Homo sapiens: one gene and its partners. The protein of the gene in region 4 interacts with the protein of the main gene of each other region in a biochemical or structural test. Each region holds a gene or a part of one and is shown on either strand. Other genes may lie near its edges. The genes, in order: MAGI3, CACYBP, ZC3HC1, SKP1, FBXO8 and CENPE.

Region 1 (3,500 bases), on a different chromosome or scaffold from region 4:
TTTCTAAACAGTCTTCATACAGTTTTGTTTAGAGCTCAAAACGAGGATTTATAGTTGAATTGTGTGTGTGTGTTACACTCTTGTGCAAATTTTCCATATTAAAAAGTTCTGAGATTATAGTTTATTGAGTTACTCTATAATATCCTACTAAATACTGAACTTTGTTTTGTTTTAATCCTTTTAAAATAAATCATAGTATTTATATTTTCTGATTTTCCTCAGCACCAAACACCAAAGATTTGGATGTTTTTCTTCGAAAACAAGAGTCAGGGTTTGGCTTCAGGGTGCTAGGAGGAGATGGACCTGACCAGTCTGTAAGTGTCACTTCTTTGGAACATGGCTGTTTCCTGTTCAAACGTTTTGAGTGGTGATTTGGTGGATTATGGTGTGTTTTAAGTTTTTTTTTCTCTGACAGTTTCATTAATATGAAGAATAACTGCATTTCCATTATTATCATAGTCCCTCAGTTATTGTGGTGTAGCTGAGGCTAAAAACTGTGGGTAAAAACTGAATATGTCAGCTGCAAATTAGACAGTGATTAATTTATTTACTTCTCTGTGTGAATAACTACATAAAGCTTATTTTAAGTTTATATTTTCCTTTGCCCTCATTAAACAGAGTCTAAGACATTTTCCTTCTCTAAGAAGCCTATAATCCCATGTCCTCTTTCCCACTATTACTCTATCTTCTGGATGCTCCATAAATGGTTGGCATGAGCCTGTGCATATTGTTTCACCTCGTCTTATTAATAGGTTGGCATTTTCATGCTCAGTACTTTGCATGTCATTTCATCTGTTACCTTTGAAACTAGAGGAATATAAAATAATTAATATTTTTGTCCAGAGGCATAAGGGTTATATTTGCAAAGCATTTGAAGTCTAGGATTTTGTTTACACATGATTCTCACATAAACTTGTTTTAGAGAACAAATGTAGTGGGTTTTGTTTCTAAGTTTTGCTCTTGGTTTGAATAACAAAGAAGTAATGTGTTCTGTAGCATTTTTAAGAACATATTTGCATTTTATTTTATATAATATCAATATATTATATATCAAAAAATATGGTTGGAAGTTAGGTGAAGAACAATAATCTTTAAAAATTACAGGCTTCTTATTTCTGAATAGAACATTTGATTTATGTAGTATAAATTTGTTCTAATTGGTCATATTGGTTACAGTTACAACAGTCATTGGAGACACATAAAGCTTAAGGCAGGTTGCCCTATGTAGAACAAATACTAGATACTTTAATTGTTCTTGGTATTTGTATTTTTGTTTTATTGCTTCCTATTTTGTTGATACTCATAATGTTCACTTAGACATTTTAAGAATTTGTCTCAAACAACTTAGAAGAAACCTTTCTTTTCTCTTAAATGTCAGATTTTAGCAGCTCTGAAACTAGCCTAAACATTCAGGATTGCCTAATTACAGGATTCTAATGCTGGTGAGCAAAATGAACCAGATTTGTTCACCTAGATGCAAGTGAAGCTTCAGGCCACTCTGTTCCCGCTGAGATTTAGAAACAAGAAATGTCTCTGTGCTGTGTATATTGAACTTGTACCGTTAGTCATATGTGATGGGAGTACTGTTGAGAATGATCCCAGTTGCTGTGAACAGTATGTAGAAAATCTTGCCTGATGACATTGAACAGACTTTTAATAGCTACTCTGCAGATTTATATTTTCTGAGTTTAGTGTTTTGTTTCATTGTAATGATAGGGATAATGGTTGTGCTTTTTGAGTTATCGAACAACTTTGTATTTTCTATTTTCTTTGTACACAGCCCTGAGGATCTATAAGGGATTACATAATACAATGTGGTTATTTGAAGTGCCATTTTGGAGAATGGGCACTTTCTCAGATAATACCTTTCTAAAATATAACTGTTTTCATAGTTGAACTGCAAAAATCTGTTGGTTTGCACAATGCTAAGTTAGGAATTCCTTAACTCTTCAGCTAAACTTTACACTGTGGACCAAACTGTACTTTGTTATCTTATCAGATATATATTGGGGCTATTATTCCCCTGGGAGCAGCTGAGAAAGATGGTCGGCTCCGCGCAGCTGATGAACTAATGTGCATTGATGGAATTCCTGTTAAAGGGAAATCACACAAACAAGTCTTGGACCTCATGACAACTGCTGCTCGAAATGGCCATGTGTTACTAACTGTCAGACGGAAGATCTTCTATGGAGGTGTGTGAACTTGTTCCTGCTCTGAAAAGTTAAAAAAGAAACAAAGATACTAGTCTACTTCCTGTGTAGTTTTGCAGGTTATTTTATTACATTCAGTAGTATCTAAGATAACCCATTTGGTGTGATCCAGGGCCTCACTGTGGAAGGCTATGCAAACACAAAAGGATTCAGAAATAATACTACTATAAAAAAATAAATTTTGGGCTTCTATATTAAGATTATTTTCATATATTGATGCATTTTGCAAATGTATTATAGGTGGGAGTATTGATTTAAATCCGGTTTTGTTTTGTTTTGTTGAGTTGAGGTAGAGTCTCACTCTGTCACCCAGGCTAGAGTGCAGTGGTATGAGCTCAGCTCACTGCAACCTCCACCTCTTGGGTTCAAGCGATTCTCCTGCCTCAGCCTCCTGAGTAGCTGGGATTACAGGCACACACCACCACACGGCTAATTTTTGTATTTTTAGTAGAGACGGGGTTTCACCACATTGGCCAGGCTGGTCTCGAACTCTTGACCTCAAGTGATCCACCTGTCTCAGACTCCCAAAGTGCTGGAATTACAGGCGTGAGCCACTGTGCCCAGCCTAAATTTGTTTTGTTTTTTTTTAAATAACAAATACAAAATTATTTAGTCATACCAAGATATCCCACTAGCTGAATATACAAAGATTTTTGGATCCCAGTGAAATCTGAGCTACTAAAGGAAAGTAGGATGTTTCTACTTGAGAAGTTTTAGTATAATTTAACATTTATTGAGTGCTTACTATGTCCTAGATGCATGGATTATTTTATTTAATCTTCACAACACTATGAGGTCATTATCTAGTTCTATGATTACTCAGAGAAAGGTTGAGAAACAAATAACTGGTAAGAGGTAGGGCCTGGATTAAAAGTTGCAGTTTAATTCAGAGATCAGGGTTTAAACCATAGCATTAGGATATGAATATCTCTTATAGTTTCTCGCCAGTAGCTTTATGAATAATTAAATAGAAATTCTTATAAGTGAATTCTTTCCACTTTAAAATTAAAAAAATACAACTCTGTAGCACAAGAATATAAGCCTCATGAAGGTATGAATTTTTATTTGTGTAGTTATCTGCTGTAAGCTCGGCACCTAAAAGAGTGCCTGTCTGGTACAAAGTGGACATTAATAAATGTTGTTAATTGGATGAATATTTACATCACTCTTAAAAATGAGGCACTGTATTTTTTATTGCAACATTCAAAGTAAAGGCCTGCCTCCTTTGGTAAATACCAGGCATTTAGAATGCATATAGATTGTAATGCAGTACTGCCTCAATTTGGTTGT
Region 2 (3,500 bases), on a different chromosome or scaffold from region 4:
TATTTAGTGATCATATTTTTATTCTGAGGGATAAAAAGAGCATAGGTTTTGTATTCAGAAACCTGGATTTGAATCTGAATTCTACCACTTGTTAGATGCCTAGCTTTGGGTAGAGTACTTAACTGCTTTGAGGCTCCATTTCTCAACCTAGAAAATTTCTTATATTTCAAATTTTTTCATGTTTATATGACTGGATTTTCATAATTTTACTTTCCTGACTTATGAGCCATGTGCATTTGCTGTTCTAAAGATAGTTTCAGAGGCTTACTTACGTCCCATCTTTTGTTGTCGTTGCCAGGATGGGATCAGTCAGATAAGTTTGTGAAAATCTACATTACCTTAACTGGAGTTCATCAAGTTCCCACTGAGAATGTGCAGGTGCATTTCACAGAGAGGTGAGTTCTCATTATAATGGGAAAGACAGTGAATTAACAGTCAACATTGCCTTATCTTGAGACTCTCTTCTTTGCAGTTTTTAAAATTCTTAAATTTAGAATTAATTATCCTTTACAACTACTTTGAAGAGGTGAGCGTTAACTGGCCAAATGCACACCCTGAAATAAAGCCAGCAGCTTTTTTCCCACAAGAACTATGGAGTAAGGGTACCTTTCATAGAACTAGAAAGATGATGTATTCACCATTGTGTTGCAGGTCATTTGATCTTTTGGTAAAGAATCTAAATGGGAAGAGTTACTCCATGATTGTGAACAATCTCTTGAAACCCATCTCTGTGGAAGGCAGTTCAAAAAAAGTGAGTGTGCTTTTTTTGATTGTAATATTGTGAAACCTTACCAAATTGAACCTGGCTGATTTAGAACTGAGATGAACTGGAATGAATTTGTCCTCTGTAACAGGGACCACCGCCTGTTTTGTGAATGTTTTATTGGGACATAGCCAGGCTTATTTGTTCATGTGTTGTTTGTGGATGCTTTTGTGCTACAATGGCAGAGTTAAGTGGCTACAGCAGACCATATGGCCCTAAATGAAACCTAAAATATTTACTATGCGGCCCTCGACAGAGAACATTTGCCAACTCCTTTTGTAGAATAGGCTATTGTAAGAATATTCCATTAAAATCAGGGAGGAAGTAAACGTTTGAAGGTAGTTAAGAGTGAGACTTGAGTTTTATGCCAGGTTTACAGCTTATTGTTTGTGACCTTTGGCAGCTTAATCACTCTGTGCCTCAGTTTCTGCATTTATGCGATAGTAATAATTTATTTCACAAAGTTGAAATGATACACTGAAGTGCAATACCATTATGTAAAGTGCTTAAATTAATGCTAGTGTTAGCATTGTGCATAATACTCGTATACATAAAAGGAGGTCTTAAGCACTTAGCCTCCTTGGAGTTAGAAGCAGCTATAAAAATAAGGAAACTGTCTTTTAAAAACTACTCTTTGTAATTTTTACTAAATCAGATAGTCCCTGTTTTCTGCCTAATGTGAATAAATGAAGTTTAATGCGTTAGGTATATAGACATGACATTCTGCCATCTGTTTTTATAATACATAATTACTTAACAGCTTACAGGTGATACTCAAATATAGTTGGATTCGCTGTCTTACTGCACCCTTCTGCATCCGCTAGTCCCATAGGTAGAGTACCAAAAGATCCCTAGTATTGATCATTGTTTAAAAGACCTGTACATTGCCCTTCTTTCTCACTTTCAAATGCCTCACCTTGCCCCATACTGCCTTATACGACTTGGTTTCTTGCCTATCCCCGACCCCTCTTATTATATTACTGTCTTTTTCAGTCACTAAAATCCAGCCACTCCTCCTGCTCCTCAAACACACCAAGATGATCCCATCTTGGAGCCATTCTGCATGCTCTGCCAACTGCCTTCTCCTGACCTTAGGCTTCGGCTCAGATTTGCCTCAGAGAGGCCTTCCTAATGAAGTTCCTGCCCCCACCCCCCATTAACACCCGCTTTGTCTTGATAGCACTTTCCAGGATATCAGGGTATTCAAGTTTTACTTATTTATGGTCTTTTCACACCATGAATGTTCAGATTTTGGCCTATTCATACAAGTATTACTGGCACCCAAAATAAGTCTATACATACTAGGGACTTGATCAATTGAATAGATAATTGTTTTATAAATATTCATGCTTATCTCCATGTCTTCTAAGCTGTATTTGTTTTCCTGCTTTTCTTCCAGGTCAAGACTGATACAGTTCTTATATTGTGTAGAAAGAAAGTGGAAAACACAAGGTGGGATTACCTGACCCAGGTTGAAAAGGAGTGCAAAGAAAAAGAGTGAGTCTACTTCCATTTTTTTAAAGAATTTTAGTGTATTGTTTGAGATCATGGATTTTTAATAGTTTGTCTTTATGGATAATGTATTTCTGCTTTCAACTGTCAAACTACCTGAAGAGGGCACGTCCAGCAAGTTGCTTTTTAAGGTCTTTGTAGTTAAGGGTTGGCTCTTTAGTGTGGTTCTTAACCCTAGGCGCAGTTGTGCTTCTATACAAATAACTGTGCCCATTCCCAGATACTCTGTTTCGGTAGTTTGAGAGGGGCTTAGGTACCCCTGTATGTTTTAAATTTCTCAGATGCTTCTGATGCGTAGTTTTCATTGTCACTGGTTTATAGTGAAAAAGATAAAATATTTTTATCCTTCTTAATAATGACCTTTTAAAAATGTGTATTCAATGATACTTGCGTTCTAGGTCAGTTCATCTTCTAAAGGTACTGACTAAATTAATTCAAGACCCAGGCCCAGATCTGTGTATCTCAGGCTTAAGAGGAGAGTTTTTCTAATTAAAAAATACATGAGCTTCAGGGTACATCCATGTGTAATGTTTATGATTTTCCCTCAAGTGTTTTTTTTCAAATTATGAGGAAACATGCTTTTAAAAAATGAAAACAAGTTAGAAAATCAAATTCTTATTTTACCTGTCAAAAATCACAGGAGGCCAGGTGGGGTGGCTCACGCCTGTAATCCTAGCACTTTGGGAGGCTGAGGCGGGCGGATCACCTGAGGTCAGGAGTTTGAGACCAGCCTGGCCAACATGGTGAAACTCTGTCTCTACTAAAAATACAAAAATTAGCCGGGCATGGTGGCATGTGCCTGTAATCCCAGCTACTCGGGAGGCTGAGGCAGACAGAATTGTTTGAACCTGGGAGGCGGAGGTTGCAGTGAACCGAGATGCGCCACTGCACTCCAGCCTGGGCAACAGAGCAGGACTGTCTCAAAAAAAAAAAAAAAAAAAAAATCATGGGAAATCCCTGTGCCTAAAAATAGCCCCTAACTATTTTGATGACCTCTTTCGTGCACCAAGTGTGTGCATGCTTGATACGTGTGTGTTGTTTTCATTAAGATGAATTTGTGCGTGCCGTTTTGATTGTAAATATCTTTGGGTACTCTGTCTTCCTTCTTATCCCTCTACTTCCTGCCAGTGTTAACAACCTGAATGATAGTATCTTCCGGTGCTTTCGTTTCCCCATTGTTGTATATGTTTTCTTTTTAAAGGAAGCCCTCCTATGACACTGAAAC
Region 3 (3,500 bases), on a different chromosome or scaffold from region 4:
GCCTCAGCCTCTGGAGTACTGGGATTACAGGTGCACACCAACAGTCCTGGCTAATTTTTGTATTTTCAGTAGAGATGGGGTTTTGCCATGTTGGCCACGCTGGTCTCGAACTCCTGACCTCAGGTGATTCCCCTGCGTCAGCGTCCCAAAGTGCTGGGATCACAGGCATGAGCCACTGTGCCTGGCCTCGGTATATACTTTTTTTTTTCGAACATCAGGATCCTTTACCACACAGTCTCATTAAGCTTTCTAGCTTCGTCACAGCAGCTGTCAGAAGGTTAAGACACACTACCGAAAAAAAAAGTCCTGGAATCCAGGGCCAATTATGAGGCCAACTTTTCCCACTACAAAACAAAAACAAAACCCATAGGCTTTCTTTTTCGTATGGCAGTGACAGAGAGGAGTCTTACTGAAAACTGCCAATGTACTAGTTCCTGAAGATCTAGGCAGAGAAATGCGGATTTTTTTTTCTGTGAAAACTTGGAAAACCTTCACCTGCATATTTACTAAGGGTACTAATATACATTTATTTTTATTTTATTTTTTTTTGAGACAGCGTCTCTCTCTGAAGCCCAGGCTGGAGCGCAACCTCGGCTCACTGCAACCTCCGCCTCCTGGGTTCAAGTGATTCTCCAGCCTCAGCCTCCCCAATAGCTGGGATTACAGGCGCCTGCCACCACACATGGCAAATTTTTTTTTTTTTTGTATTTTGAGTAGAGACGAGGTTTCACCATGTTGGCTAGGTTGTCTCAAACTCTTGACCTCAGGTGATCCATTCGCCTTGGCCTCCCAAAGTGCTAGGATTACAGGCGTGAGCCACCACACCCAGCCATGCAATTTTGGACTTTTAGCATTACTATAGTTCCCTCCAGTGGAATCCTGTAACCCTAGAAAACCATGAATCTAGGAGTGCTGCTCATAAATATCTGCTGACAAGTATTATTTTACTTTGTCCTTGAAAGTTATAGACTACGATCAGAAATTGTTACCAGCTACAAGGAAAATTTGGGAGTGAGCCAGCGAAGGAGAGAACCCAGTTTTCATGGTTCCATATTACCCAGCCTATCACTTCCAATCTTTACACAGAGCAAACACTTGACTTTTCTTCTCAGTTGTCACCCACATTTGTAACCCACAGCAGTTATGGCTGCAATGGCTAGCAGAGTCACAGTCTGGGCTGTGGAACAGAGTAAAGTAATGTGCCCAGCGTGCGGAATGAGGCCATCATCTTGGTGTCAGAGCCCAGTGCTCCAAACAGCTAAGTTAACTGGCCAGGCTCCAAGTGCAAGTGACAGCAAATGAAAGAAAAAGCAGCTGTCTGCAACATGAGGCCGGAGCAGCTGCCTGTTCATCTATTTCTGTTTCCGTACTCCTTTTCTACTTGGAGTCACTTTATTTAGGAGAACAAAAGAATTTATCAGAACTTGACGGAATGCCATATGCTAAACTACAGAAAGACGAACCGGTTCTATGCCTAATCCCTAGGACGAAAGCAGAATGAGTCTAACTTGACGTATAAGCCGGGCACGGTGGCTCACGCCTGTAATCCCAGCACTTTGGGAGGCCGAGGCGGGGGGATCACCTGAGGTCAGGAGTTCGAGACCAGCCTGGCCAACATGGTGAAACCCTGTCTATTAAAAATACAAAATTAGCCGGGTGTGGTGGTGGGCGCCTGTAATCCTAGCTACTTGGGAAGCTAAGGCAGGAGAATCGCTTGACCCAGGAGGCGGAGGTTGCAGTGAGCTGAGATCGTGCCATTGGACTCCAGCCTAGGCAACAAGAACGAGACTCCATCTCAAAAAACAAACAAACAAACAAAAAAACCCAAATAACTTGACGTATGAAAGCTGAAGGCAGGCGGGGTGCTAATTATAGGCCCAGCCTCTGCTCCACCTCCCATAAACAGCAAGTGCTGCCCACACACAAGGCAGTGGCGTATCTCACCATGGAGTCCGTTTCAGCTGGCTGGCTAGACTGTTTGTGCGCCAAGAGGATGGTCAGCACTGCTTTCCAGCCTGGCTCTGCTGGGGCGCTGGCATCTGGTTCAGTTCCACCATTCTCCCTGCTTTCTTTGCCAAGTGTGATATTCACCCAAGGGCACCAGTCTCTATGCTGAGAGGTGGGATCAAAGAAGCTTCGGGAAGATGTGTCCTGAGGAAGGAGAAAAAGAAATAGCATTCATAGGTAGATGCTATGTAAGTTCAGGGAGGCACTGCTGTTAGTTATCAAGTCCAGAATCTCACAACTACCCATACTTCGAGTGTTTATGCTCTCCTTCAAACTTTGCCTACACATTTTCCTCTCATTTTCTTTATTTTTTCACTCCTTTTGTGTTAAACAAACTATACCTTATCACAAGGGATAAGGGATACCCAACCCCCAGGCCATGGATGGGTACCAGGTCGCACAGTAGGAGGTGAACAGCAGGCGGGCAAGCAAAGCTTCATCTGAATTTACAGCTGCTCCCCATTGTTTGCATTACCACCTGAGCTCTGCCTCCTGTCAGATCAGCAGTGGCATTAGATTCTTATAGGAGCAGGAACCCTACTGTGAACTGCACATGAGAGGGATCTAGACTTCGGGCTCCTTATGAGAGTCTGACACCTCATGATCTGTCACTGTTTCCCGTCACCCCCAGATGAGATCATCTAGTTGCAGGAAAACAAGCTGCAGGTTCCCACTGACTCTATATTATGGTGAGTTGTACAATTATTTCATTATATATTACAATATAATAATAATAGAAATAAAGTACACAATACATGTAATGTGCTCGTATCATCCCGAAACCATCCTCCCAACCGTGGTCCGTGGAAAAATGGTCTTCCATGAAAACGGTCCCTGGTGCCAAAAAGGTTGGGGACCGCTGCCAGATCAGGTTTGTCCCTGTATCACACCGTTGTTCCATTTGCCTGAAATATCTATTATTTCTCCAGAATCCACTCCAAAGGAACAAAAAGGAGCAAAAAACATGACTGACATTTTTTCCCTTTGGTCATCCAACTTTAAATTTATTCACATGGTCTACTTTTTGCATTGGACCACGGAAGGGCTCCTGCCTGCTTCTCCATGCTGCCTAGGGAGGGCCCAATATGCTGTTTATGCTCAGCCACTGCTACATGCGAGGTGGACTCACCGAACTGCTGGAGGAGCAGAGGCGAGCTCGCTTGGCTTTCCGCAGAGGGCTAGATGGTACCTCCAGGCCAGGGGTGTCTCCTGTTCCCATGCTTCGGGTCACTGGGCGAGTTCTGGTGGTGGGGCTAGCAGCCTCTGGCTCAGGACGGTCAACAGGACTGGAAGAGTCCCAGCTCCGAGTTCGAGAGACAATGGGACCAGGGCTCTTTTCAGCCTGAAGGAAAGGGGAGATAATGGAAGTACACGAATGATATTAATGATTATGGTCAGAAATACTTCTTTCTTTAATCTTTTTTCTTTTTTTTTTTGAGACAGAGTCTCGCTTTGTTGCCAAGGCTGGAGAGCAGTGAGGCGATCTTGGCTCA
Region 4 (3,500 bases):
CTTCAAAATATGATATATATTCAATACAAACAGGCTTAAAAAAAAAAAAAACTTCTCGGCTGGGTGTGGTGGCCCACACCTATAATCCCAGCACTCTGGGAGGCCAAAGGAGACAGATCGCTTGAGCCCAGGAGTTCCGGACTAGCCTCGGCAACATGGTGAAACTCCATCTCTACAAAAAATACAAAAATTTGCCAAGTGTGGTGGCATGTGCTTGTACTCCCAGCTACTCGGGAGGCTGAGGTGAGAAGATCACCTGAACCCGGGAGGTAGAAGGTGCAGTGACCCATGACTGCACCACTGCACTCCAGCCCAGGCAACACAGTGAGGCCCTATCTCAAACAAACAAACCAAACAAACAAAAAAACCCCAAAAACCAAGCACTTCTCATTCTCAGAAGTGGCCCTACATCACCCAACCCTTTAACTCTGACCTTATCTACTCACTTCTTGCTCTAGCTTCCACTAAACTCCTTGCCTTTCCTAAAAAGGCAGGGCATGCTCTTGTCTTAAGGTCACTGTACTTGCTCCCAAATCCCAGAATTCTTTTCCCCCAAATATTCACGTCTTTGTTTAAAAGATTATCTTCGGCCAGGGATGGTGACTCAAGCCTGTAATCCCAGCACTTTGAGAGACTGAGGCAGGCGGATCACCTGAGGTCCGGAGTTCGAGACCAGCCTGGCCAACATGGTGAAACCCCATCTCTACTCAAAATACAAAAAATTAGCCGGGCGTGGTGGCGCGCGCCTGTAATCCCAGCTACTGAGGCTGAAGCAGGAGAACTGCTTAAAGCCCGGAGGCAGAGGCTGCAGTGAGCCAAAGTTGTGCCACTGTACTCCAGCCTGGGCAACAAGAGCAAAACTCCATCTCAAGAAAAAAAAAAAAAAAAAAAAAAAAAAAAAGATTATCTTCTCAGTAAGACATCTCCTGACCATCTTTATTTTAAAAACAGCTAACTGTTCACCTACTCACCCCTTTAAATTCCCCATTCCCTTCTTTATTCTCCATAGTTTTTCCATTTGATGTATTTCTAATGTTGCATATTCCCCACCCCTTCAGACCATAAACTCCATAAGGGCAGAGATTTTGTCTCTTTGGTTCACTGCTATACCCCCAGCTTTTGGATGGCATTTGAATGTACCAGGCATTCGACTACAAGCAAAGATCCTTTTAGAAACATTTTTCATTAGTATAAAATAGAATACGTTAATTGCAAGACATATTCAGAAGTCATAAAGAATGAGATCTAACTAGATAAAATAAAGCCTCTAAATCGTAACATGAATTAACGTAAGACAAGCAAACTGGTAGAAACTTTTAAAGAGTTCTTATAAAAAGCCTATTAGATAATACCACTGAATTGTCACTTAAAAATGGTTAAGGTGGTAAATTTTGTTATGTGTATTTTACCACAATTTTTTAAGCTCATTAGACAACAACATGGATGAACCTTGAAAACATTATGCTAAGTGAAATAAGCCAGATACAAAAGGACTAATATTGTATGATTCCATATATTATGTATCCAGGATAGCTAAATTCAGATACAGAAAGTAGAATAGTGTTTACCTAGCGTAATTTTTTTTTTTGAGGGGGGAGGGTGTACCAATTTTTTTTTTGAGGGGGGAGGGTGTACCGAAATTGGAAGTTACAGTTTAATGGGTACAGAGTTTCAGTGTGGGATGATAAAGTTCTGAAAATGCTTAGTGGTGATAGCTGCACAACACTGTGAATGTAATTAATGTCACTGAATGGTGCACGTTCAAAAAGTGAAAATGATCAATGTTATGTATATTTTATCACTATTTTTCTAAGACCATTAGGAAAACAGAGAAATGAAAACAGACAATGCAGAAAATGTAAATGGCCAGTAACACATGTAAAAACATTCACACTTTGGGAGGCCAAAGCAGGCAGATCGCCTGAGGTGAGGAGTTCAAGACCAGCCTGGCCAACATGGTGAAACCCTCATCTCTACAAAAATAAAAAAATTAGCTGGGCATGGTAGCGGGTGTCTGTAATCCCAGCTACTCGAGAGGATGAGGCGGGAGAATCACTTGAACCCAAGAGGCAGAGGTTGCAGTGAGCTGAGATCGTGCCACTGCACTCCAGCCTGGGCGACAGAGTGTCTGTCTCAAAAAAAAAAAAAAAAAAATGCCAGGCTCGGTGGCTCATGCCTGTAATCCCAGCACTTTGGGAGGCCAAGGTGGGCAGATCACAAGGTCAGGAATTCAAGACCAGCCTGACCAACATGGTGAAACCCCATCTCTACTAAAAAATACAAAAATTAGCCAGGCGTGGTGGCGAGTGCCTGTAATCCCAGCTACTTGGGAGGCTGAGGCAGGAGAATTGCTTGAACCTGGAAAGTGGAGGCTGCAGTGAGCCGAGATTGTGCCACTGCTCTCCAGCCTGGGCAACAGAGTGAGATCAAAAAAACAAACAAACACAAAAAAATTCAGGTTAGCCAGGCATGGTGGCTCCACCTGTAATCCCAGCACTTTGGGAGGCCAAGGCAGGGAGATCGTCTGAGGTCAGGAGTTGGAGACCAGCCTGGCCAACATGGTGAAAACCTGTCTAATATAAAAATTAGCCAGTGTGGTGGTGGGCATCTGTAATCCTAGCTATTCGGGAGGCTGAGGCAGGGAAAATTACTTGAACCCGGAAGGCAGAGGCTGCAGTGAGCTGAGATCACACCACTGCACTCCAGCCTGGGCAACAGGGCGAGGCTCCATCTCAAAAAAAAAAAAGATGCTATATATTAACTAACATAGACATATCACCTTTCATTTTGTTATATGGAAAAAAAAAAACATAGAAATGTATAGTTTGCTACCTTAAGAATGGGGGAGAATGCTGGGCGCGGTGGCTCACACCTGTGATCCCAGCACTTTGCGAGGCTGAGGTGGGCAGATCATGAGGTCAAGAGATCAAAACCATCCTGGCCAACATGGTGAAACCCTGTCTCTACTAAAAATACAAAAATTAGCTGGGCATGGTGGCGTGTGCCTGTAGTCCCAGCTACTCAGGAGGCTGAGGCAGGAGAATCACCTGAACCCAGGAGGCAGAGGTTGCAGTGAGCCGAGATCATACCACTACCCTCCAACCTGGCGACAGAGCAAGACTCTGGTCTCAAAAAAAAAAAAAAAAAAAAAAAAAAGAATGTGGGAAAAAAATATACTTACTTGTTAATACCTGTATTACAAAATACTGAAAGGATAAATTGCTACCTGAAAGGGGACTGGAATAGATAAGGACAGAAATGGGAACAAAGTGTTACATATTCCTTTGACTTTAGCCGTTTCAAAATTATAAATCTAAGAAAGACAGTCACGATTCAATTCCACCATGCTCTAGAAGTGGTATCTTTACAGAAGACTATTTAACAGTATCTATCAAAATTTAGGTATATAAGCCAACCTGCGATCCAGATATTCTACATGTAGATCATCCTTCCTAGGGAAGTGTTTGCATAGGTAGACACAGTACAGATGCCCAATAAAT
Region 5 (3,500 bases), on a different chromosome or scaffold from region 4:
TTATACCACTGGGAAAAATGGGTTACTTTTTAAATGTCACCCTTATTACATTCTGGCTTTTTCCCAGGCTTGCAGATGGGTCAAGGGTTGTGGAGAGTGGTCAGAAACCAGCAGCTGCAACAAGAAGGCTACAGTGAGCAAGGCTACCTCACCAGAGAGCAGAGCAGGAGAATGGCTGCGAGCAACATTTCTAACACCAATCATCGTAAACAAGTCCAAGGAGGCATTGACATATATCATCTTTTGAAGGCAAGGAAATCGAAAGAACAGGAAGGATTCATTAATTTGGAAATGTTGCCTCCTGAGCTAAGCTTTACCATCTTGTCCTACCTGAATGCAACTGACCTTTGCTTGGCTTCATGTGTTTGGCAGGACCTTGCGAATGATGAACTTCTCTGGCAAGGGTAAGTTAAACCCACCAAAGTTGAATTCAGGTATCTCTAAACATAATCATGCTTCAATGTTCTTTTTATAATGTATATTACAAAATATTTTCTTTAAACTTGGGCTTGTACTTTGAGATGCTCTTTATTAAAACCTGGAAAAATATACAGTTAGCATCACAGTCAAATTTGATCTTGTGAAAAGGAGGACAATAGAAAATAGAATAATAACTTTACAGTTAGAAGAGAGGTTACCAATCAGGCTCTGTCAGTTGATTATAAGTCAGAAACTCTCACTTTATTCTGAAAATACCGCAAAGTTGTGGAGTGAGAATTTCTAATTTAAAAGTTGGAGTGTTCACATGCTGTGTAGTTTGTGCTTCCCATAGGATACCTGCCATCTGAATAATAGGCAGACTTCGAAATCAATGAATAGTCCTCAAATGTTACTGTTTTTAATTTTCTTCATATAGAGCCTTACATTTTTACTCAATTCTATATTTCTTCAAAGGTGCTTGTTAGAATAAAATTTAACTGGTGAAAATTTTATCTACTTTTTTTTTCTAACCAGCATTTCAATGAAGTAGGCAAATATTAGAAAGCAAGGGGACAAATAGTTGTTTTTATTTACTTGCTGAACTTAGATTACATAAATTTCCACATTGTACTAGTCTGAATTAAAACCACAAATCTAAGAACATTTGCTGGAATAGAATCTGTTTTATTGAACCTAAGTTACTCCTTAAATAGCATCATATACTTTAACAAAAAGTATAGGTACATGATTTTTTGGCCTAAAAATATTACCAAACATGGAATCATTGGATCTCAGACCTTCTAGCATCCTTTACCAAAGTTTATTTGTCTTATTATCTTGAAATAGGTCTTTATAAAAATATAGACTATAACTAAAAACAAATATCTTTTTAAGACTTCCTATAATTTCAAACTAGAAATCTAATTGAGAGACTTAATAAATTACAAACTTTAGTCAAAATATATTTTCAGTAATGACATTCCTAAATTAGGCTTTCTGATGTCACACAGTTCTAGTACAAGTTATATAGGTCATTTCTCAACCTCTAAATAGATAAAAATCATCAATATCATATCTTGTTATTCTTTTACTCATTTGTTTGACATAGTGAAAGTACTACGTGAGAGGAAATTCTGTTAATGAGGAGTCTTTAAAATAAATGTTATTAATTTTTTACTCATGAATAGAAGAGGAAATGAAAGTACTTTTAAACTGGCTCATTCTTTCTAATCTCTTTTCTACATTTTAGTATTCCTTACTAACTTAATTTCTGTTTGTTTGAACTTTTTTTAAAAGTTTAATTTCTAGCCTTACCTGAAGTCAACCAGAATGTATTCTTCATTTGGGGTTTAAATCTGAATTTTTCATTTGTGAAAGAAATATTTGCCATAATTATGCCTATTTTTATAATACTTGGATTTTTTCCTTAATAATAAATTGCTTCTATTTGAAATTAAAGGCTGGCTTAGTTTTAATTTCAACTTTGGATGTATTGAATACTCATTGATGTTGGGAAGTTCTCTGGTTTTCACAAAGCTTAGTAATAAAACTCTAGTTTTGGGTTTTATTGGGACTAGATTAATAAGACTGAAAAAATATTGATAATATTCTAAACAATTTTTTATACTTACAGTTTTGAGTCAGTGATTTCATTTGGTGGGTAAAAATAATGCAGCAGTATAAATCAACTACTAAGAGGGTAGTCTCATGTTAAATTAGATATTTTACCCCCTTGTCCTCACAATTTTTGATGTTATATGCTCAGACAGTAACTTTTTCTTGTTGCTCTGCACTTTGTGTGTTTATTAAAAGAAGGAAATCTGAGGCAGAAATTAATAATGAATATAAGAAAGTAAACAGTTTCATTTGTCTCAACAAGTAGCAGGTGTTTTTGAATACACAACAAATCAGATAATTTTGAGACAAAGACTCATCACAATTGTATCAGAATATAATTTCAGTATTCTCTGTTTCTCTAGAATAATGCATTTATATTTAAGGCTTTTTGGTGGATATCCAGAATTTCCAGGCATTATAATAAGATAAAACATTAACTTTCAAATAACCAGTAGCTATTGCCTCTGTGAAGAGTTAGAAAGTATCCCAATCTGCAGTGTGTTTTGAGATATGAACTGTTAGTATTTTCGGTTTTATAGAATTTCTAAACAATCATGTATCACTCTGATAATAAAGAACTAGTGTTTTTGAAGCAGTATCTTAAAAACAGCTATGTTGAACATCACAGCTTGATGAATGTATTCAAGTTGTGGCATTACAAACAATTTCTGTATTTAATTTGTCTGTTGTAACGTGTATTATTTGAAAAACAAAAGCTGTTTCCCTGCCCAGCATTCTTTTCCTCCCATTTAGTTTTATTTCACAATAGAGCACATAGGTTAGTTAATAAACCCTATTTAGATTCTTGGTTAATAATTGCAAGCTGTGGATTACTCATTGGGTTGAAATCCTGCATCTGTACATATTAGCCGTATGATCTTGGGCAACTGTTTTGTCTGTGTTTCTTATCTGTATCACCAACGTCATAGGATTGTTGTGAAGATTAGGCAGGCTAATCCAATTAAAATACTTGAAATAGGGTCTGACATCTAGTAAGTATTCAGTAAATGTTAGCTATTATTACTATTATTAGGAATAGTTTATGTTTAACTTCAGATAGTACTCATGAATATTATTAATCTCTATAACTCACATTTATTAGATGCTGTCAAAATTGCTAAATTTAAAGCATCTGTCATACTCTAGTAAACAAATAGAAAACAAGTACAAACTTAAAAATTTTAAACTTTAGAACTATAAAATTCAATCTTATTTCATGTTACTATTTTTGCATGTATATGCATATTTAACTTAGGAAATTAAATGTAGTAATGTTTTCTTGTCTCATTTTCTCTGATTTTATAGGTTGTGCAAATCCACTTGGGGTCACTGTTCCATATACAATAAGAACCCACCTTTAGGATTTTCTTTTAGAAAATTGTATATGCAGCTGGATGAAGGCAGCCTCACCTTTAATGCCAACCCAGATGAGGTTAGTGAAGAACTTGAATATTTGTATCCAG
Region 6 (3,500 bases), on a different chromosome or scaffold from region 4:
TAGAGAGGAGGTTTCACCGTGTTGACCAGGGTGGTCTCGATCTCCTGACCTCATGATCCACCCGCCTCGGCCTCCCAAAGTGCTGGGATTACAGGCATGAGCCGCCAGGCCCAGCCTCAACTTCTTAAAGTAAAAAATGATCTTAGGGAAACTATGTATCAAACAGGTCAGTTAAAGAAGCAGTTAGAGGCCTGGAATGTAACTCTGGAAAGTGTAGAAACGCAGAAATTAAGATTGACTCAGAAGCTTCATGAAAACCTTCAGGATGTAAGATTTGTTACTAAGGAAAATGATGGCCTAAGAGGAGTAGAGGAAATCTTTAAAATGGAGCAAGACCAACTTAGGGAAGGCCTTAGAGAAATAGAAGCTAAAGTAAGCTCATTCCTCTCCCTGGCAATTCAATGTATTGTGTTCTTACAGCAATGAACCCTTCTTTGAACCAAGTACTACTGTTGGCAAGAATGAAATGATACAGCCTTTTAAGCAGATAATTTGGTACTGTTCTTGAAAAGTTCAAGTCTGCAATTATCATTTTCCTTACGGACTTTAGCCTACATATATACTGTTAAAGGAGTGTGTGTGTATATACAAACACAACGTATACATATGCCACAGGTTATTTATTGTAGTGATTTTAATTAAAAATCTGAAACAATCTAAATGTTCCTCAGAAGGAAACAGTAAATATGAACAATATATCGAAATACTATGCAACACTTAAAAAAAGTAATATATGTGTAATGTGTTTGCCTCTGGAAAGCAGAAGTAGAGTGTGAAGAGAGGAGGACAGGGAAGAGAAAGCCTGTACCTTAAAAACAACAGCAAAGATATAGAGTAACAGTGTTATTATTTTTACTAAGAAAATATATCACTTTATTTTTTAAAAACTAATATTAAGATATGTCACTGTTTTTAAAATTTCTCTAATGGTAAAGGATCTGAAAATACAAGAGGAACTAAGAATTGCTCACATGCATCTGAAAGAGCAGCAGGAAACTATTGACAAACTCAGAGGAATTGTTTCTGAGAAGACAGATAAACTATCAAATATGCAAAAAGATTTAGAAAATTCAAATGCTAAATTACAAGAAAAGGTATTTTTATGGGGGGATTGTTTGATTGGATATCTAATTTGTTTGTGCCTAAAATTGTTGGGGATATAAAATGGTTCAACCACACTGGAAAACACCTTGGCAGTATTTACTAATGCTGGATGTAGCCTGCCTGAGGCCCAACATTTCCACTTCTTGGGTATGTACATAAGAGAAAAGAGTACGTACATACTTCTATAAAAAGACACAAGAATGTTTATAGCAGCCTTATTCAAAATAACAAAAAACTGAAAACTCAAATGTCTATCAGCAGGAAAATGGATACATACATTGTGATATATAGGTTCAAAAGCAGGCAAAACTGAACCAGGATGATAAAGGTCAGAATAGTGGCTGTCTCTAGGAAGGAGCACACAGAAACTTTATGAAGTGCTAGAAATATTCTCTGTTTTAATCTGGGTTGTAGTTTCATAGATTTACACCTGTGTCAAGAATAATTAAGTTATACATTGAAGATGAGCATGCTTTATATATATTATACCTCAAAAGAAAGTAAAATTCTGTGTGGAATTGTGCAGGATATCAGTGAGAGTAACATGGGTAGACAGTTGTCTTAATCAATTTAGAAACTATTATTTATCTGTCCCTAAAAAGCCACCTAACATATTATTTTATGATTATCTTAAGATTCAAGAACTTAAGGCAAATGAACATCAACTTATTACGTTAAAAAAAGATGTCAATGAGACACAGAAAAAAGTGTCTGAAATGGAGCAACTAAAGAAACAAATAAAAGACCAAAGCTTAACTCTGAGTAAATTAGAAATAGAGAATTTAAATTTGGCTCAGAAACTTCATGAAAACCTTGAAGAAATGAAATCTGTAATGAAAGAAAGAGATAATCTAAGAAGAGTAGAGGAGACACTCAAACTGGAGAGAGACCAACTCAAGGAAAGCCTGCAAGAAACCAAAGCTAGAGTGAGTTGTGTTCTCTCTTTACCCTACCATTATATTCACATATTTGGGCAAAAATACAGTGTTCACTGCAGCGTTGTGTCTGGTGACTAAAACCTAGAAATAATCTAAGTGTCCACCAATAATAAGGCACTATCTGTATAATGGAAAACTAAGCATAAGAATGGGGTATTCTTTTTGTGATATTGATTTAGAAAGATGTCCAAGTGGTATGAAAGGAGAAGGCTATGGGTGAGGCTACCAGCAGAAAATTTTACTTTACTCTTCTAATTTAGGAGGTTGTATAATGGTTGTTTTTAACTGTGAGTGTATAATTTTTAAGATTTTGTTTAAACTCAATCATTAAGTAAAGGTAACGTGCCTTTATATCATTACATTTCTTGATTTCTTCTAACCATAAAGGATCTGGAAATACAACAGGAACTAAAAACTGCTCGTATGCTATCAAAAGAACACAAAGAAACTGTTGATAAACTTAGAGAAAAAATTTCAGAAAAGACAATTCAAATTTCAGACATTCAAAAGGATTTAGATAAATCAAAAGATGAATTACAGAAAAAGGTATGTGTTGTTTTGTTCTTCTTTTGGAAGTAACTGTGCCCAAAATTATTTGTGGAATTAAAAAGATATAGATACAGATATGTAGATAGATATGTGCATATAGAACACAAGTAGACACTATTTGCCTTCCTTGAAGAAACTGCTTACATTCTAACTTGTTTTACAATTATCTCAAGATCCAAGAACTTCAGAAAAAAGAACTTCAACTGCTTAGAGTGAAAGAAGATGTCAATATGAGTCATAAAAAAATTAATGAAATGGAACAGTTGAAGAAGCAATTTGAGGCCCAAAACTTATCTATGCAAAGTGTGAGAATGGATAACTTCCAGTTGACTAAGAAACTTCATGAAAGCCTTGAAGAAATAAGAATTGTAGCTAAAGAAAGAGATGAGCTAAGGAGGATAAAAGAATCTCTCAAAATGGAAAGGGACCAATTCATAGCAACCTTAAGGGAAATGATAGCTAGAGTGAGTTCAGAGTCTTCCTTTGTGTAGTAACTATTAATAAGAATTAAGCTTTTTTGAAAAGAATTACAATGTTTTTATTTCTTTCTCTGGAAATTCCTATGAACAGTAAAGGACAGTGGGAAATGGTTACTCTAATTTTTACACAATAGAAAACAGTTTTAAAAGAAGCAAAAATATTTTCAGAAAATAACATTTAATTCTTTATTTTTATAAACTGTGTTAAAGCAGTCTATTTCCCTTAATATAACATTTTAAAGTTTTTTTTAATCAAGAGATAGCATTATTCTAAATGGAGAAATATTTGAAGGATTAGATTTGTAAGAGAGCAAATATTCCCATTTCTCTACCTATACATGCTGGAGTTCTAGAGTTGGGCTCTTATTGGTGAAGTTAAAAGGAAAAAAGGGAAGATAAATATAAAAATTAAGTTCCTCTGGTATGACTA

Evidence for each region.
Region 1: the proteins of SKP1 (region 4) and MAGI3 form a complex in vitro, tested with the Homo sapiens proteins (one study listed by BioGRID).
Region 2: the proteins of SKP1 (region 4) and CACYBP form a complex in vitro, tested with the Homo sapiens proteins (one study listed by BioGRID).
Region 3: the proteins of SKP1 (region 4) and ZC3HC1 form a complex in vitro, tested with the Homo sapiens proteins (one study listed by BioGRID).
Region 5: the proteins of SKP1 (region 4) and FBXO8 form a complex in vitro, tested with the Homo sapiens proteins (one study listed by BioGRID).
Region 6: the proteins of SKP1 (region 4) and CENPE form a complex in vitro, tested with the Homo sapiens proteins (one study listed by BioGRID).

What each region holds. Positions count from the first base shown.
Region 1 is NC_000001.11:113,649,015-113,652,514, forward strand, and holds part of MAGI3 (membrane-associated guanylate kinase, WW and PDZ domain-containing protein 3), read left to right. Parts: intron 1-222; coding exon 223-314; intron 315-1,999; coding exon 2,000-2,192; intron 2,193-3,500.
Region 2 is NC_000001.11:175,006,447-175,009,946, forward strand, and holds part of CACYBP (calcyclin-binding protein), read left to right. Parts: intron 1-298; coding exon 299-395; intron 396-651; coding exon 652-751; intron 752-2,162; coding exon 2,163-2,260; intron 2,261-3,476; coding exon 3,477-3,500. UniProt on the Homo sapiens protein: May be involved in calcium-dependent ubiquitination and subsequent proteasomal degradation of target proteins. Probably serves as a molecular bridge in ubiquitin E3 complexes. Participates in the ubiquitin-mediated degradation of beta-catenin (CTNNB1).
Region 3 is NC_000007.14:130,020,375-130,023,874, forward strand, and holds part of ZC3HC1 (zinc finger C3HC-type protein 1), read right to left. Parts: intron 3,350-3,500; coding exon 3,137-3,349; intron 2,152-3,136; coding exon 1,945-2,151; intron 1-1,944. UniProt on the Homo sapiens protein: Required for proper positioning of a substantial amount of TPR at the nuclear basket (NB) through interaction with TPR.
Region 4 is NC_000005.10:134,163,451-134,166,950, forward strand, and holds part of SKP1 (S-phase kinase-associated protein 1), read right to left. Parts: intron 1-3,500. UniProt on the Homo sapiens protein: Essential component of the SCF (SKP1-CUL1-F-box protein) ubiquitin ligase complex, which mediates the ubiquitination of proteins involved in cell cycle progression, signal transduction and transcription.
Region 5 is NC_000004.12:174,259,668-174,263,167, reverse strand, and holds part of FBXO8 (F-box only protein 8), read left to right. Parts: intron 1-67; 5' UTR 68-75; coding exon 76-404; intron 405-3,342; coding exon 3,343-3,469; intron 3,470-3,500. UniProt on the Homo sapiens protein: May promote guanine-nucleotide exchange on an ARF. Promotes the activation of ARF through replacement of GDP with GTP.
Region 6 is NC_000004.12:103,139,344-103,142,843, reverse strand, and holds part of CENPE (centromere-associated protein E isoform 1 precursor), read left to right. Parts: intron 1-935; coding exon 936-1,094; intron 1,095-1,739; coding exon 1,740-2,030; intron 2,031-2,429; coding exon 2,430-2,588; intron 2,589-2,764; coding exon 2,765-3,055; intron 3,056-3,500. UniProt on the Homo sapiens protein: Microtubule plus-end-directed kinetochore motor which plays an important role in chromosome congression, microtubule-kinetochore conjugation and spindle assembly checkpoint activation.